Linked DNA regions of Homo sapiens: region 1 is linked to region 2. Evidence: fine-mapped expression QTL. Tissue or cell type: skeletal muscle. Region 2 holds a variant in brackets; the other region holds the start of a gene. All regions are shown on one strand. Distances are from middle to middle.

Region 1 (8,139 bases), 49 kb after region 2:
TATGTAATTACATACATATATCCAGGTTTTCCTGCCCTAAGGCTGTGGAACTGCACTATAAAATAGTTACTAGTCGCATGTGGCTATTTAAACTTTAAATTTGATTTAAAAAATTCAGTTCCTTATTTGCACTAGCTGCTTTTCATGTACTTGAATTGCAAAACAGTGCAGAAACATTTCCATCAGCAAAGACACTCACAGCCACCCTCTAGCAACGTGCTAGTCCACACAATGGAACTAGGCATTAGGGCCTGAGCTGGTTGATTTGCCTGTGACTCCAAACACTTTCACAGATAACTTGTGTTCTTGAAGGGGATGGGAAAGAAATTACTATTTCTTGAGCATCCACCATATATTATATCCTATCTTGTCTCACCTTTACAAGAAAACTACAAGAAAGATAAAATCCCTTTTTAACAGATAAAAATATTTACATTCTGAGAGTTTACACAGCTTGCCCAAAATCACACAGTAAATGGCAGGGCTGATTCAAACCCAGTCCCAACTTCTAACCTCAGACTCCTCTTTAGCAGTAAATTGCCTTCTTTTGAGGAATTTACTTTCGGACTTTGAGGCAATGTCTCCCGCTTCCTCCCTCCATCTATAAATCTCACCTTTTTCTTCAAGCATCTGGGTCAAATCTTCTATTAGGGTCACCACTTCCTCACTACTCTCAGGATGTTGTGACTTTACCCAAATCCTGATCTCCCCAGGCAAAATGGTCAGGAACTGCTCAAACACCAGAAGCTCTAAAATCTGTTCTTTCGTGTGAATGTCTGGTCTCAGCCACTGATTGCAGAGCTCCCAGAGTTGACTCAGAGCTTTCCTGGGTCCAGCTACTTCTGAGTAACAAAACCACCTAAACCTCTGTCTGAAAGACTCTGCATCAGCAGCATTTCCTCTTAAAATAGCTTCTTGTTCCCCAGAAGTAACCACTCTTGGGACCTCATTTTGTTCAGTCGAGGCCAGAGTTTGAGGTTCTGGTGAGATGGCTGTCATCTTGTTCAAGGGCACTACAGCTTGCATTGTGTCTCAGGGGCAGGAATCCAGTCCCTTCACACTCTAGTTGAGTATCAGTACAGTCCACCAACAGGCACTATACACAGCCAGGAATATCAAAGGTTCCAGGAATCCAGTTTACAGTCCTGCAGAAACTGTCAAGAAGAAATATTAAGGCATTAAATAAGTAAAAAAACTGTTGTTAGTCCTAAAAACATCGTTCTTGGTTTGGTTCAGAGAAATATATCCACACACATACCAGCAAAGGCCTAGAAAAGCCCTGCTCAATTAAAAGGATAACTTTCTTTCTTTTTTTTTTTGAGACGGAGTTTCGCTCTTGGTGCCCAGGCTGGAGTGAAGTGGTGCGATCTCGGCTCACTGCAACCTCTGCCCCGGCTGGGTTCAAGTGATTCTCCTACCTCAGCCTCTTGAGTAGCTGGGATTATAGGCGCCCACCACCATGCCTGGCTAATTTTTGTATTTTTAGTAGAGACGGGGTTTCGCCATGTTGGCCAGGCTAGTCTTGAACTCCTGACTTCAGGCGATCCACCCACCTCAGCCTCCCAAAGTGTCAGGATTACAGGCGTGAGCCACTGTGCCCAGCCATAATTTTCTTTATAGTCAAAAACCAGGGAGCTACTTAAGGGTTAAGGAAACAGTTGCTTTAGATTGAATACTCCTCCTAAACAAAATGTTATCAGAAAAGGTTCACAAGGGGACCCAGTCACAAAGCTATTTAACAACTCCTACCCTTTCTTAATGAAAGGGCACACATTTCTCACTAGTTGCTCAACTCAGAAGCCCAATTTAATATTTGACTTTCAAATTTCTCTTCCTCCTTACTTCTCCCATCAATCGCCAAGTTCTGGCGATTTTATTTCCTAAGAACCTCTCCATTCTATCCTTCTGAAACTGCCTAAGTACAGGGTTCTTCACTCCAGTCTCACACTGTGGCCAAAAAATTCCTTCTAACATGCAAAATATGATCTTATCACTCCCCGGCTTACAGTCCCTCACCAGCCACCGAACTGTCTCTCGATAAAGTTCACATGCAGGGACCATGGCATTGTGATCTAGAGACACTGTCTGATGACCTCACCTCTTGAGCTCTAGCTACCCGATTGACACTACAGCCATAAATTAGTATCTCCTCTCTCTCTACATACTCTCCTAGCCTTTGCACCAAGGCTATTCCCTCTCCTCGGAATGTTGCTTTCTTTCTCCTACCAAACTTTTATTCGTCTTTAAAGCCTGACTCCTTTCAACTGTCACTTCTGGTGTGATGCTCTGCTTGATCCCAAAGCACTCCTTTGCACACAGACTGCCCTGTGTTGCATTCATTCATTCATTCTATAAGTGACGGAGCAACTACAATGAGCTGGAACGAGACCAGGGGCCATGAGCTGCGGGGCCAGGCGTGGACAGGCCTGAAAGGGTCCTCACGCTCACAGAGGGTCCAGGAAATGACAATACAGCCGGAGCGGGACTACAATGCGACAAGTGAAGGATGTGACAGCCTCGCATTGCAACTACCATACCAATAACAACCCACTTCCGAGTACAGCGCCCGGCACACAGCAGCATGACGTCATTTATTCCTCTGCCAAATATTAGGCGCCCACCACGTACCTGGCGCCGTGCTGAGCACCTGGGGCTCCGCGATGACTAAGACACTCGGCTCCGTCTACAGGGAGTTTACATAGGAGGCCCGGTGAAAATGTGACGCAGCCAGAGGATCTCAACCAGAGGGAAGAAAAAAGGAGAGATTTCACCCCCCAGCGGTCCTCTGGCAATGTCTGGACACATTTTTGGTTAGCTCGACTAGGACGAGAGGTGGTACTGTTATCTAACGGGCAGAACCAGTGACGCTGTTAAACATCCTGCCACAACGGGAGAGCCTCCCCCTCACCGCCACACCACAAACAAAACAAGGCATTATCCCGCCCAAAATGTCAACAGTGCCCAAGTGGCGCAGGGAGGGATGGAGGGAAGCCAACAGCCCCATCCCGCAGCGGAGTGCGCACCTCCCACAGAAGCAGCAGCAGCGCAGCGCACAGCCCGTTGGTAGGCTGCTCCCGGCCCCCATCCCGCCCCAAGTGCGCCCTCGGAGCCGGCGACCCGGCCACGGCCCCGAAACTCGGGGCCCGGGACGACCAGTACCTGCATCAGCATCCGCAAACAGCACCAACGCCACCGCAAAGAGCTTCCAGAAGCTTGTCCCGCAGCGAGTGCGCGCGCAAGCCTGCGGGAACCACTGCGCCTGCGCAGAGGCGCTGAACCGGACTCCCCGAACGCGCTCGTGCAGCTTTCCGAAAGTCCGCGCTTTCCATAGGCTCCCACCTGCCTGTTGCGCATGGTCACTGGGAAGCGGCTAGTGGGCTCGGCTGCAGAATTATTGCTGCGCCAGAGGCTCAGAGGCCTAGAATCGTATGAGGTTTGCAGATCCAGGAGGCTCCATCTGTTTAGTAACCTCAGACCTTCCCTACCCGCTCCCATCACTTCCATTCCCTGAAATCTAAGGTGGAAAAATCCACCGCAGAAGCATATTACCGATGCATTTAATGCAAGCCATAATTAATGCCACAACTTGAGTTAAACACATATTAATCTTATGACTTCCACACCTGCCCCCATGGTCCAGTCCACCCTCATGGCTCACCTGGATTATTGCAATAGCTTCTTGATTATACCTTACTTCTCTTGGCTATTCTCCACAGCCAGACGGACGTTTTAAAAACGTCAAATTATGACCCTCCTTTGCTTAAAACCCTGCAATGGTTTCCCATTTCACTCAGAGTTAAAACCCAAGTCTTTATAGTGGCCTACAAGGCCTGATGGAATCTAGCCCCTGTAACCTCCCGCACCTCTTCCCCACTTTCCTGCTCCAATCTTGATAGACCCCTTCCTCTTCTTGTAACCTGCCAGGTACTTCCGGCTGACCTGCTCCTTCCCTAAGTGGCCATACGGCCCGCTCTCTCATCCCTTCAGGTCTTCTCAATGAAGCTCTCCCACCATTCCACTTAAATAGGAATCCCACCTTACTCTTGTTTCCTCTTCTAACATGCCCTATAGGTTTGTTAATTTTTTTTTTTACTACTTGTCCGCCTTCTCCAGTAGAATACTAATTTCAGAAGAGTAAGTATTTTTATTTCATTTGTTCTAGGTTGTGTGTTTAGGTCCTGGAACAGGACTTGGCCCATGGCAGGCACTCAATAGATATTTGTTGAGCTTATGAATGAGTATTTGCATGGATTATTGGGGGCATTGCAAAAAGGGCCAAAGAACTCCAGAAAAATTGTTTGGAGGGTTCTAATAACTGGATGATCCCTGAAGGGGTGGAGTTAGGAGAGAAAGACTAGATTCATTCTAGACTGAAGGAGCAAGGTGATTCAAGGCCCTGAGACTTCAAAAGGGCAGAGCAAGCTCAACTAAATGAACCACTCCTCTCAAAAGGAGTGGGCTTATCACAGGCAGCAAGTCAAGCTGAAGAGACAGGGCTGAGAATGGCCGGGCGCGGTGGCTCATGCTTGTAATCCCAGCACTTTGGGAGGCTGAGGCGGGTGGATCACCTGAGGTCGGGAGTTTGAGACCAGCCTGACCCACGCGGAGAAACCCTGTCTCTACTAAAAATACAAAAAATTAGCCAGGTGTGGTGGCACATGCCTATAATCCCAGCTACTCGGGAGGCTGAGGCAGGAGAATCACTTGAATCCGGGAGGTGGAGGTTGTGAAGAGCTGAGATCAGGCCATTGCGCTTTAGCCTGAGTAACGAGTGAAACTCCGTCTCAAAAAAAAAAAAAGAGAAAAAAAAGAAACAGGGCTGAGAATGAAGACAAAAGTTTTCTCAGTCCCGAGTCCCATGGCATATTCTCCTTTACCCACCTCCCCTTGGCTGGCTTTAGACGCATCAGGAAGAAGCTGGAGAAGGCAAAGGAATAGGAAATGTCTATTGGCTCATTATTTTAACCAGGCAAGTCAGAGGCACTTTACTTAGTAAAGCTTACTCAAGCTTTACTGTACTTTAGAATCACATGGTGTTCTTTATTTGAATACAGATTTTGGAACCTTCTGGCCCTCCCCACCCATCAACTTGTTGCAGGTGATCTTGTATTTTGAGAAACACAGTACTAGTTGAAATATTCTGTAAGTAAATGACATGCTACCTATGAATAAATTACCAGGAAAGAATGGCATCTTTTTGGAACTGGTAGTCAAACTATAACTTTTGATTAAAAGTAACCATCATGGTAAGGAGTGATGGACTGTGCATCAGGAAGGAAGCAGGAAACTACAAATCAGTTCCACTGGTAAGCAAGCTGGTGGGATCTCTAAACAGGAAAACATACTTAGGAGAACTTTAAGTGAGCTGTTTGTTTGTTCGTTTAACTGTTCTGGTTTCAGTATGGACAGTAGATTAGAAAGAAGTAACACCAGAGATAAAAAGACTTTGTCTTATCATAATCCAGGTAACATGATGGTGACATAAAATGAAGGTGGTTTAAAAGGTGATGGAAGGGCCGGGCTGGTGGCTCACGCCTGTAATCCCAGCACTTTGGGAGGCCGAAGTGGGCGGATCACGAAGTCAGGAGATTGAGACCATCCTGGCTAACGCGGTGAAACCCCATCTGTACTAAAAATACAAAACTTAGCCGGTCATGGTGGCGCCTGCCTGTAATCCCAGCTACTCAAGAGGCTGAGGCAGGAGAATCACTTGAACTCAGGGGGGCAGAGGTTGCAGTGAGCTGAGATTGCGCCACTGCACTCCAGCCTGGGCGACAGAGTGAGACTTCATCTCAAAAATAAAAAAAAAAAAAAGAAAGAAAGTAGAATCCTACAGTACATATTCTTCATATATTATGACTTCTTTCATTCAACATTATGTCTGTGAGATTTATCAATATTGTTGCATGTGATTATACAGTGTTTATTTTCATTGCTGCATAGTGTTCTCCTATGATTTTTTTGTGTGTATTTGTTTTTTTTTTTTTTTTTTGGAGACGGAATGTCGCCCAGGCTGGAGTGCAGTGCAGTGGTGTGATCTCAGCTCAGCTCACTGCAATCTCCACCTCCCAGGTTCAAGCAATTCTCCTGCCTTAGCCTCCTGAGTAGCTGGGATTACAGGGGCTCACCACCACACCTGGCTAATTTTTGTGTTTTTAGTAGAGATGGGGTTTTGCCATGTTGGCCAGGCTGGTCTCAAACTCCTGACCTCAGGTAATCTGCCCACCTTGGCCTCCCAAAGTGCTGGGATTACAGGGGTGAGCCACTGCTCCTGGCCTGACCTGTTATTTGTATTAACATTTCCTGTTTTCTTAGACCCTTGCCCAGCCTCTGTTCCCGTACACAGAGTTGGGGAGGAAGTATGTATGATTGTTTGTGTATCTGAAGGGGAGAGTCTGTCTAATTTTCCTGTCTTCTTTCTTTTTTTCTTTTGTTTTTTTTTTTTGAGACGGAGTCTAGCTCTGTCACCCAGGCTAGAGTGCAGTGGTGCGATTTCGGCTCACTGCAACCTCCGCCTCCCGGGTTCAAGCAGTTCTCCTGCCACAGCCTCCCAGGTAGCTGGGATTACAGGCGCCTGCCACTGCGCCCGGCTAATTTTTGTATTTTTAGTAGAGATGGAGTTTCACCATCTTGGCCAGGCTGGTCTTGAACTTCTGACCTCGTGATCCACCCGCCTCGGCCTCCCAAAGTACTGGGATTACAGGCGTAAGCCACTGCGCCCGGCTTCCCTGTCTTCTTTCTAGACTCACTCCACTTTAAAGAAACTGAAGACCCAAGGTCCTGCCCACCCCTCCCCATATCCTATTTTTTCAAAAATGAGACCCAGCGCAGGGAGGGGCTTGCCCAAGGTCACTCAACTGGTAGATTGGAAACTGACTGGCTCTGAGCCCAAGGCTTTTAGGAGAAAGGAGCACATCTTCCCCATCTCTAGAGGGAGGAGGACAGGCTGGGACTCTGATCAAGGATCTAAAACAGGTGTTTTAAAACTAGTTGTTAATTGCCAAACTGTCCAAAAGAAATATTACAGATGAAAGAGGTGCATTCCTGATTGAAGTCCTGGCTTCCCCACCTAGCAGCTTTGGAGTTATCTCCTTAAGACCCTCAGGGCTCTTGTGCATCCACTTTGGAGGCCTCTGAGCTCTAAAGGTTTGAGCTGCCTCAAGGACACCAAGTCCTTGTTTCCAGGTGCCTCCAGTCCTGGTTTAACTGGGACTCCAAAGATCCCAGAGCCACTCTAGGGGAGCTGACCCTCTCCTGAAAAGAAATAACAAAAAATTCCTCCTGCCTGGCTCTGTAGAGCCACAGAGGGTGGTATGTTCCAGAAAGAAAGAAAGAAAGAAAAAGAAATAGCAAGCAAGTGAGCTACGAAGCTCCCGTAAGGATCCACTAGAGAGAAAGGGGATGAAGACAGAGAGTGTGGGAATATGCTGTAGAGTGAAGACTGAGAAACTAGGGGGAAGCACAAGTGGAGAAATTAGCTTTAAACTGCCAGAGCCAGCATGCAGTGTTCATTGTAATAGCAGGGAAGGAGGCAAAGAAGGGGGTAGATGCAGTTGGATTTGGAACTGGTATCTAATGGATCCTGCTGAGATCCACTATTGGGACCTCCCCAGAAGGGAGATACGGGTGGGATCTGAAGCTTGATAAGAGTAGATTAGGTTTGGCCGGGCGTGCTGGCTCACACCTGTAATCCCAGCACTTTGGGAGGCCAAGGCAGGCAGATCACGAGGTCAGGAGTTCGAGACCAGCCTGGCCAACATAGTGAAACCCTGTCTCTACTAAAAATACAAAAAAAAAATTAGCCGGGCATAGTGGTACGCGCCTGTAGTCCCAGCTACTTGGGAGGCTGAGGCAGGAGAATCACTTGAACCTGGGAGGTGGAGGTTACAGTGAGCTGAAACCACGCCATTGCACTCCAGCCTGGGTGACAGAGCCGAGACTCCATCTCAAAAAAAAAAAAGAGTAGATGGCTGCTGGGAGAATATGAGTTGATCACAAAAACACAGAAGGATTTCCCTGCAGTGTTAAGGGCCCATTTGAGGTTAGAAACCCCCATTTTATGTTACATCAATATGTACATTAAATGATTTTTCTCAAGGTACACAACATAGCTCCAGAATAGGTACAGGGAAGAGGGAC
Region 2 (8,000 bases):
GTATTAGCTTATACTTTCTGGCTATGAAGTATAATGTTACTATGAACATTCATGCAGAGGTTTTTGTGTGGATTTTTCATTTCTTTTAAGTATATACCTATGAGTAGAATTGCTGGGTCATATGATAATTTCATGTTTAACATTTTGAGGAGCTGTCAAACTGTTTTGCAAAGTGGCTACAGTACTTTACATTCCCACAAGCAGTGTATGAGGGTTCCAACTTCTCTACATACTCACCAACACGTGCTATTGTCTGTCTTTTTTATTATAACCATCCTAGTAGGTTTGAAGTGATATTTCATTCTGATTTGAGTTTGACTTGCATTTCCCTATGGCTAACAATATTAAGGATCTTTCAACGTATGTATTTGCCATTTGTATATCTTCTTTGGAGAAATATCTGTTCAAAATCTTTGCCCATTTTTGAACTAGGTTATTTGTGAGGTTGTAAGATTTTTTTTTTTTTGAGACAGTTTTTTGCTCTGTCATCCAGGCTGGAGTGCAGTGGCGCGATCTTGGCTCACTGCAACCTCCACCTCCCGAGTTCAAGTGATTCTCCTGCCTCAGCCTCCCGAGTAGCTGGGATTACAGGCATGCACCACCATGCCCAGCTAATTTTTGTATTTTAAATAGAGACGGAGTTTCGTCATGTTGGCCAGGTTGGTCTCGAACTCCTGACCTCAGGTGATCCACCTGCCTTGGCCTCCCAAAGTGCTGGGATTATAGGCATGAGCCACCACACCTGGCCAAGAGTTCTTTACATCTTACCGATACAAGTCCCTTATTAGATTCAGTGGATTTTCATTATTCACAATATTTATGTTCTATAAGGTCACCACCAAGGCTGAAAACCATTGCTTCTAGGGGAAATATGTACATGTTTGCACATATCTCACATAGACTATAATCTGAAATCCTTAAAACAACTCATCCTAGTAGCTTTTATTTTATGAAAGACAAAAGGAGGTTCAGAAGTGTTAAGTAACTTGCCTATGGCCACTCCACTAGCTAATACCCCCAGAGTTGGGATTCATACTCCATCCAGCTCTTCCCCGAACCAGAGCCTCTTGAACTGCACTGCAGTGGCCCCATCCTCTGGTCATCTCTGTGTAACAGTTGAAACAAGAAGGCAGAGCATGGTCTTATTCAGCCTCAGAGAACATCTGCATCTTTTTTACTGCTCCATGTATGTCTGCAAGTGACCAGGGAAAGCTTAGTGAGTACTGGTTTGAGGTTACAAATAAAATTTTAGCAAGTAGTTTACAATATGCAAATATGAAATCCACTAATAATGAGGACCAACTCTATATGGCTTGCAAATATTTTTTCCTATTCAGTGAATTGCCTTTAACCTTCTTTCTGTTTTTGTTTTTGCCCTTTTTTTTTTTTGAGACTCAGTCTCACCAGTCTCACTCTGTCTCCCAATCTGGAGTGCAGTATGTGATGACAGCTCACTGCAGCCTTGACCTCCCAGGTTCAAGCCAACCTCCTGCCTCAGCCTCCCAAGTAGCTGGGACCACAGACATGCACCATCATACCCAGCTAATTTTTATGTATTTTTTTTTTGTAGAGATGGAGTCTCACTATGTTGCCCAGGCTGGCTTTCACTTTCTTGATGGTATTCTTTGAAGCATGAAAGTTTTAAATTTTGATGAAGCCCAATTAATCTATTTTTCTTTTGTTCCTTGAGCTTTTGGTGTCATGTCTAAGAAGGCTTTTCCTTTCTCAGAGTCATGAATATTTATTCCTGTGTTTTCTTCTAAGAGTTTTATAGTTTTAGCTGTTACATTCAGGTCTACGATGCATTTTAAGTTAATTTTTGTGTGTAGTATAAGGAAGAGGCCCAATTGCATTATTTTCCATGTGGAAATCCAGTTGTTCGGCACGTTTATTGAAAGGACTATTTTTCCTCTATTGAACTGCTTTAGCACTTCTGTAGAAAACCAATTGATCCTAAATGTAAGGGTTCATTTTTGGACTCGTGATTCAGTTCCATTGATCTGTATTTCTACTCTCACACTATCTTAATTAATTTAGCTTTGTATTAAGTTTTGAAATTGAAAAGTGCCAGTCTTCCAACTTTGTTCTCTATACACCTTTTGAGTATTTTTCCATACCTTTAAATTATAAGACAATGAGGTTATTGGACTGATCAGAGAACCTCAATATATAATAAAGGAAAATGTATAAGTTATAAAAGGTATGGTCTTAGAATCAAATGAAAAAGCCTGTTTATTTATTTTTCTTTTTTTCTTGAGATGGAGTCTTGCTCTCTTGCCCAGGCTGGAGTGCAGTAGTGTGATCTCAGCTCAATGCAACCTCCGCCTCCTGGGTTCAAGCAGTTCTCCTGCCTCAGCCTCCCAAGTAGCTGGGATTATGGGTGCCCACCACCATGCCCTTCTAATTTTTTGTATCTTTAGTAGAGACAGGATTTTACCATGTTGGCCAGGCTGGTCTGGAACGCCTGACCTCAGGTGATCCACCCACCTCAACCTTCCAAAGTGTTGGGATTACAGGTGTAAGCCACCGTGCCCGGCCGAAAATGCCTGTTTCTAATGTCTTTTTCTAACTGCAGTCTTCTGCACTGTTGGGCTAATTCAGTCAGTTTTGTTGCTGCTAAAACAGGTATTGTAAAATAATGCTTGTGACTTAATGATTCTCCTGAATCTCTAGTATTTAGATTATTTAACATTTTGTCTTTGCTATCTGTTTAGGTAGGTGGAGAGTTTTCAAACACTGTTATCGGCCAGATGAAGAAATTTGGAAGGATTGCCATATGTGGAGCCATCTCTACATATAACAGAACCGGCCCACTTCCCCCAGGTAATGAGCACATGCACACGATCCCATATGTCACAAGGCTGGACAAGGAGAAAATTCACAGATATGCCATAGGCCAGTGACTCTGAAATTATTAGAAAGATTTTCATATATTCTTTTTTTTTTTTTTTTAAGACAGAGTCTCACTTTGTGAGTGCTCAGGAGTTTGAGACCATCCTGGGCAACATGGCAAAATGCCGTCTCTACAAAAAATACAAAAATAAGCTGGGTGTGGTGGTGTACACCTGTAGTCCCAGCTACTCAAGAGGCTGAAGTGGGAGGATTGCTTGAGCCTGGGAGGCGAGGCTGCAGTGAGCTGTGTTCCTGCCACTGCACTCCAGCCTGGGTGACAAAGTGACAGCCTGTCTCAAAATAATAATAACAAAAACAATAACAAAAGAAATAAAAATATATATAATTTCACATATTTTGTGCTAAATCAGCTTATATTAGATTTTTATGTAGAGAAACAGCAAGATCTACAAATATAAAAGAAACAGTTATTAAAAGTTTTAGTTTTTACCTATCATTTAATGCAAAACTGTAAAAAGACAGTGATGATTTGATTTAGAAACAGAACACCTTGGTCTGGCTGGTAAAATATTCAGGTTCCTCTGGATATTAGAGACATTGCTGGAGGTGCGAGAGGAATAAAGTGTGACTTGCTGTGGGTGAAGGGAAGAGCAGACTGCCATGCCCTTCAGAAATCTTGGGCAGTGCTTCTTGGAGCAGTAGGGCGTCTTGGCCTCAGCAGGCTGACAATTGCCACTAAAAGGGAAGGGAGCAGCAGCTTCCCTCCATTCCTTGATTGTCCTTGTTTTATTTCTCTGGTGCCCTGCCATGCGCTCCATTCCCCACTCCCTACTCTCTTATGCTGAAACCACATCCCTCCCGCTCCACACTCTGAGGTCCAAAAGCAGTATCAACCAGAGAACCATATTCATTAAATCCCAGTCCTGTGAGATGCCTTGTACAGGCCTCTCATTTTATGGGTGTGGAGAGGAATGGCCAAGAGGACCAGAGACTCTTTAACTCCTATTGGCAACAGACTCAAAACAAAGACCAGTCTTCTAAGCTCCTCATACAGAGTCTGTTTCTGCTACAGTGATTCTGTGCTATTAAGAGAGATCACAAATTACCTATGGTCCCCCC[C/G]CAAAAAAGGAGAAAGTACGAGAAAGTAGGAAAAAAAGGAATCTTCCAGACTCTAATCAGGATCCAGGCAACCATAAATCAATGGTTATTTATTCTATGATGAGCTTGACTAATGGGAATGAAACCTTATAGCCCCACTGGTTAACCACCACACAACTGTATGGAGATGGGGGGGCTAGAAAGGAAGGGGCTGACAAAGGGCAACTTGTAGATTCCCTCTCAGGTTGTGAAAAATCAAAATCATTACCAAGAAGGAAACTCCAGATTTACTTGGCAATCTTATTGTTAGGGACTTTTTTTTCCCCCTATAATTTTCTAACTGGTGCTAAGCTGGAATCATGGGAAATTGTCTGCCTGCCAACTGAGCAAAGCTGCAGGAGGCCTTTTCTTAACCACAGTCCGATTAGGAATAGCCAAATATTTTGGATACAGTAACTCGATCTAGTCTTTTTAGCAATTAGTCTTTGGAAGCTCAGCTGCTCAGACAGGACTTTGAGATGTCAGCTGGCCTTGTCCGTTCCATTTTAATCAGATGGAATTCTGCCCTGCCACAGAGCCCCAGAAATTCTAACATATTCCACTGTTAGGATAGCTCAGAGGCAAGCAATGATTTCCTCCAGGTTTAATGCTACATATGCTTTTTTGCTCTCAGTAAAAAAACAAAAACCAACATTCTCATCAACACGCACAAATCCAGAAACAGCATTTCACTTTCATTTTGCTTTTTTGTTTATTGGTTTGTTTGTTTTGAGACAAGGTCTTGCTCTGTTTCCCAGACTGGAGATTTTTTTTTTAATTTTTTAATTTTTTTTTTTTTTTTTTTTTTTTGAGACAGGGTCTCGCTTTGTTGCCCAGGCTGGAGTGCAGTGGCGCAATCATGGCTCACTGCAGCCTCCACCTTCTGGGCTCAAGTGATCCTCCCACCTCAGCCTCCCGAGTAGCTGAGACTACAGACATGTGCCACCATACCTGGCTATTGTTTTTTGTTTTGTTTTGAGACAGAGTCTCACTCTGTCGCCCAGGCTGGAGTGCAATGGCACGATCTCGGCTCACTGCAACCTCTGCCTCCCCGGTTCAAGCGATTCTCCTGCCTTAGCCTCCTGAGTAGCTGGGATTACAGGCACAAATCGTCACGCCTGACTAATTTTTTTTATTTTTAGTAGAGACAGGGTTTCACTGTGTTAGGATGGTCTTGATTTCCTGACCTCGTGATCTGCTCCCTTCAGTCTTCCAAAGTGCTGGGATTACAGGCATGAGCCACCATGCCCATCCCACTTTCATTTAAGATGAGGAAATGAGAGTTCCAATCCCTAACTCACAAAGAATAGTTGATGTGGGTCTTCTGAAGAAGCACTCTTTCTGTCTCATTCTCTTGCATTAGTTTCTTTTGGTTCAGGACAAAGCTTCATATTTCCAACTGCTAATGTTACTTTCCTCAAAGTAATCAGTGGGAACTTTAGGCTGAGTGGTGCCAGTGGTCAAAGATGCTGAAGCTAGATTCCACCACTCGTCTTAGCACACCAGGCATCTTCGCCTGACTTCCTGGAACTTGAAAGCCTATGCTGAGGTGTCATTCTGTCAGTTTCTAGTCAATTAGGACACTTGGGAAAATCAACCAGGCAACCAAAAAACTTTTTCTTCCTTACACGCAGAAGGGTAGTATCTTCTTTACAGGCTGCAGGAGAGCTGTGTGCTTTTTCTGGGGTGCTGGTTTTCAAAGTGTGGGCCAAGGACCAGCAGCATCACCATCTCCTGGGAGCTTGTTAGAAATACAAATTCTTAGCCAGGCGCAGTGGCTTATGCCTGTAATCCCAATATTTTGGGAGGCTGAGGCAGGAGGATCGCTTGGCCCAGGAGTTTCAAACCAGAGCAATAGAGTAAGACCTCATCTCTGACAGAAAAAACAAACAAACAAACAAACAAACAAAAACTAAAAAAAATTAGCCAGGTGTGGTGGCATGCACCTATAGTCCCAGCTACTTGCAGGGCGGAGGTGGGAAGATCACTTGAGCCAAGAGGTCAAGGCTGCATTGAGCAGTGATGGCACCACTTTACTCCAGCCTGGGGAAACAGAGCCAGACCCTGTCTCAAATTAAAAACGACAACCACAAAACACACAGACACAAAAACACCCACATGTTTATTCTTTTGTTTGTTTACTTCTTTTTTTCTTTTTGAAACCGAGTCTCGCTCTGTCACCCAGGCTGGAGTGGAGTGGTGCAATCTCAGCTCACTGCAGTCCCCTTCCGACTTCAAGCGATTCTCCTGCCTCAGCCTCCTGAGTAGCTGGGATTACAGGCATGTGCCACCATGCCCAGCTAATTTTTGTATTTTTAGTAGAGACAGGGTTTCACCATGTTGGCCAGGCTGCTCTCAAACTCCTGACTTCAAGTGATCTGCCTGCCTCGGCCTCCCAAAATGCTGGATTATAGGCATGAGCCACGCACCCGACCCCACACACTTATTCTTGTAGGTCTAGAGGTTAAAAGTAAAATGGGTTGGCAGGGCTGCATTCCTTCTGAAGATGCTAGAGGAGAATCTGCTTCCTTGCCTTTTCAAGCTTCTAGCAGCTGCCTGTATTTCTTGGCATGTGGCCCCTTCCTCTGTCCTCAAAGCCAGGGGCATAGGCTCTTCCTCCTCCTCCTCTCTCTCATCTCTGCTTCTATCACCCCATATTCTGTCCCTGACTGTAACTTTCCTGTATCCCTCATTCCCTTACGAAGACCTTTGCTGTTATATTGGGTCCATCTTTATAGTGGAGAATAATATTCCCATCTCAAGGTTCTTTTTTTCTTTTTATTTTTTTGAGGCAGAGTCTCATTCTGTCACCCAGACTGGAGTGCGGTGGCACGATCTTGGCTCACTGCAACCTCCACCTGTCGGGTTCAAGCAATTCTCCTGCCTCAGCCTCCCAAGTAGCTGGGACTATAGGCACCCGCCACCATGCCCAGCTAATTTTTTTTTTTTTTTAATTTTTAGAAGAGACGGGGGTTTCACTATGTTGGCCAGGCTGGTCTCGAACTCCTGACCTTGTGATCTGCCCGCCTTGGCCTCCCAAAATGCTGGGATTACAGGTGTGAGCCACCGCGCCACCCCCAAACTTCTTAATCATATCTGCAAAGTCCTTTTTGCCATGTAAGGAACAGGTTCTGGGGTTTTTGGATATGAACATGTTTGGGGCCATTATTCTGCCTGGCTGCAGAGTGCATGTTGATTGGCCAGCAGTCCCGTGGATCAGAAAGGAGTGAGGAAATGGAAGGGGAGAAGCACCAAAAAACTCCCAGCACCAAGCACAGTGACAGTGACCTGTACTGCTTGTTTCACCATGGGCACCTCCCTGGATCCTGCCACCCAAATGTGCCCTTCTCTTCACAGGCCCACCCCCAGAGATTGTTATCTATCAGGAGCTTCGCATGGAAGCTTTTGTCGTCTACCGCTGGCAAGGAGATGCCCGCCAAAAAGCTCTGAAGGACTTGCTGAAATGGGTCTTAGAGGTAAGGAGCTCCGGAGCCACCCCTTCCAATTGTACACTAGGTCACACTCCCTTTGCCTCTCAAGGCTTTTGTTCTACCAATTCTTCCCCATCTCTGCCGCATCGTCAGTTTTTCCCTATTGGGTCATTGTGCTTAGAGTATAAATATTCTTACTTTTCCCATCTTTGAAAGGAAAACAAAACAACCCTCTCTAAAGTTCATTTCCACTGCAAATGCAGGTCCATTTCCCTTCTCTCCCTTTTATAACAAAATACCTGGAAGTGCTGTCTACACTCACTGTCTGCCATTCCTCTCTTTCCATTCTTCCTTAAACCCACATATGAGGCTTTTCAGAGTCTCACTCTGTTGCTCAGGCTGGAGTGCAGTGGCACAATCTCAGCTCACGGCAACCTCCGCCTCCTGGGTTCCAGCAATTCTCATGCCTCAGCCTCCCGAGTAGCTAGGACTACAGGTGTGTACCACCACGCCCAGCTAACTTTTTGTATTTTTAGTAGAGACAGGTTTTCGTCATGTTGGCCAGGCTGGTCTCAAGTG

The links. PIP is the estimated chance that this variant, and not a neighbour inherited with it, causes the effect.
Region 1: it holds the start of ZNF483, and the variant in region 2 is fine-mapped to the expression of ZNF483 in skeletal muscle (GTEx, PIP above 0.99). The same link has a PIP of 0.9 or more in subcutaneous fat and sun-exposed skin.

The regions. Positions count from the first base shown.
Region 1 is chr9:111,520,283-111,528,421 of GRCh38, reverse strand. ZNF483 (zinc finger protein 483) reads right to left here and starts at 3,243. Exons shown (of 6, transcript NM_133464.5): 1 at 3,160-3,243; 2 at 615-1,154. The coding sequence starts at 1,026. RefSeq lists enhancers at 2,080-2,579, 2,691-2,890 and a silencer at 2,991-3,340.
Region 2 is chr9:111,569,557-111,577,556 of GRCh38, reverse strand. It overlaps PTGR1 (prostaglandin reductase 1), which reads left to right. Exons shown (of 10, transcript NM_001146108.2): 8 at 2,715-2,823; 9 at 7,348-7,466. It also overlaps a transcript of ZNF483 not described here. Among named protein-coding and RNA genes, the nearest start is that of PTGR1, 26 kb to the left of the region's middle. RefSeq lists enhancers at 4,535-4,704, 6,625-6,794. The variant C/G (reference allele first, on the strand shown) is at 3,973.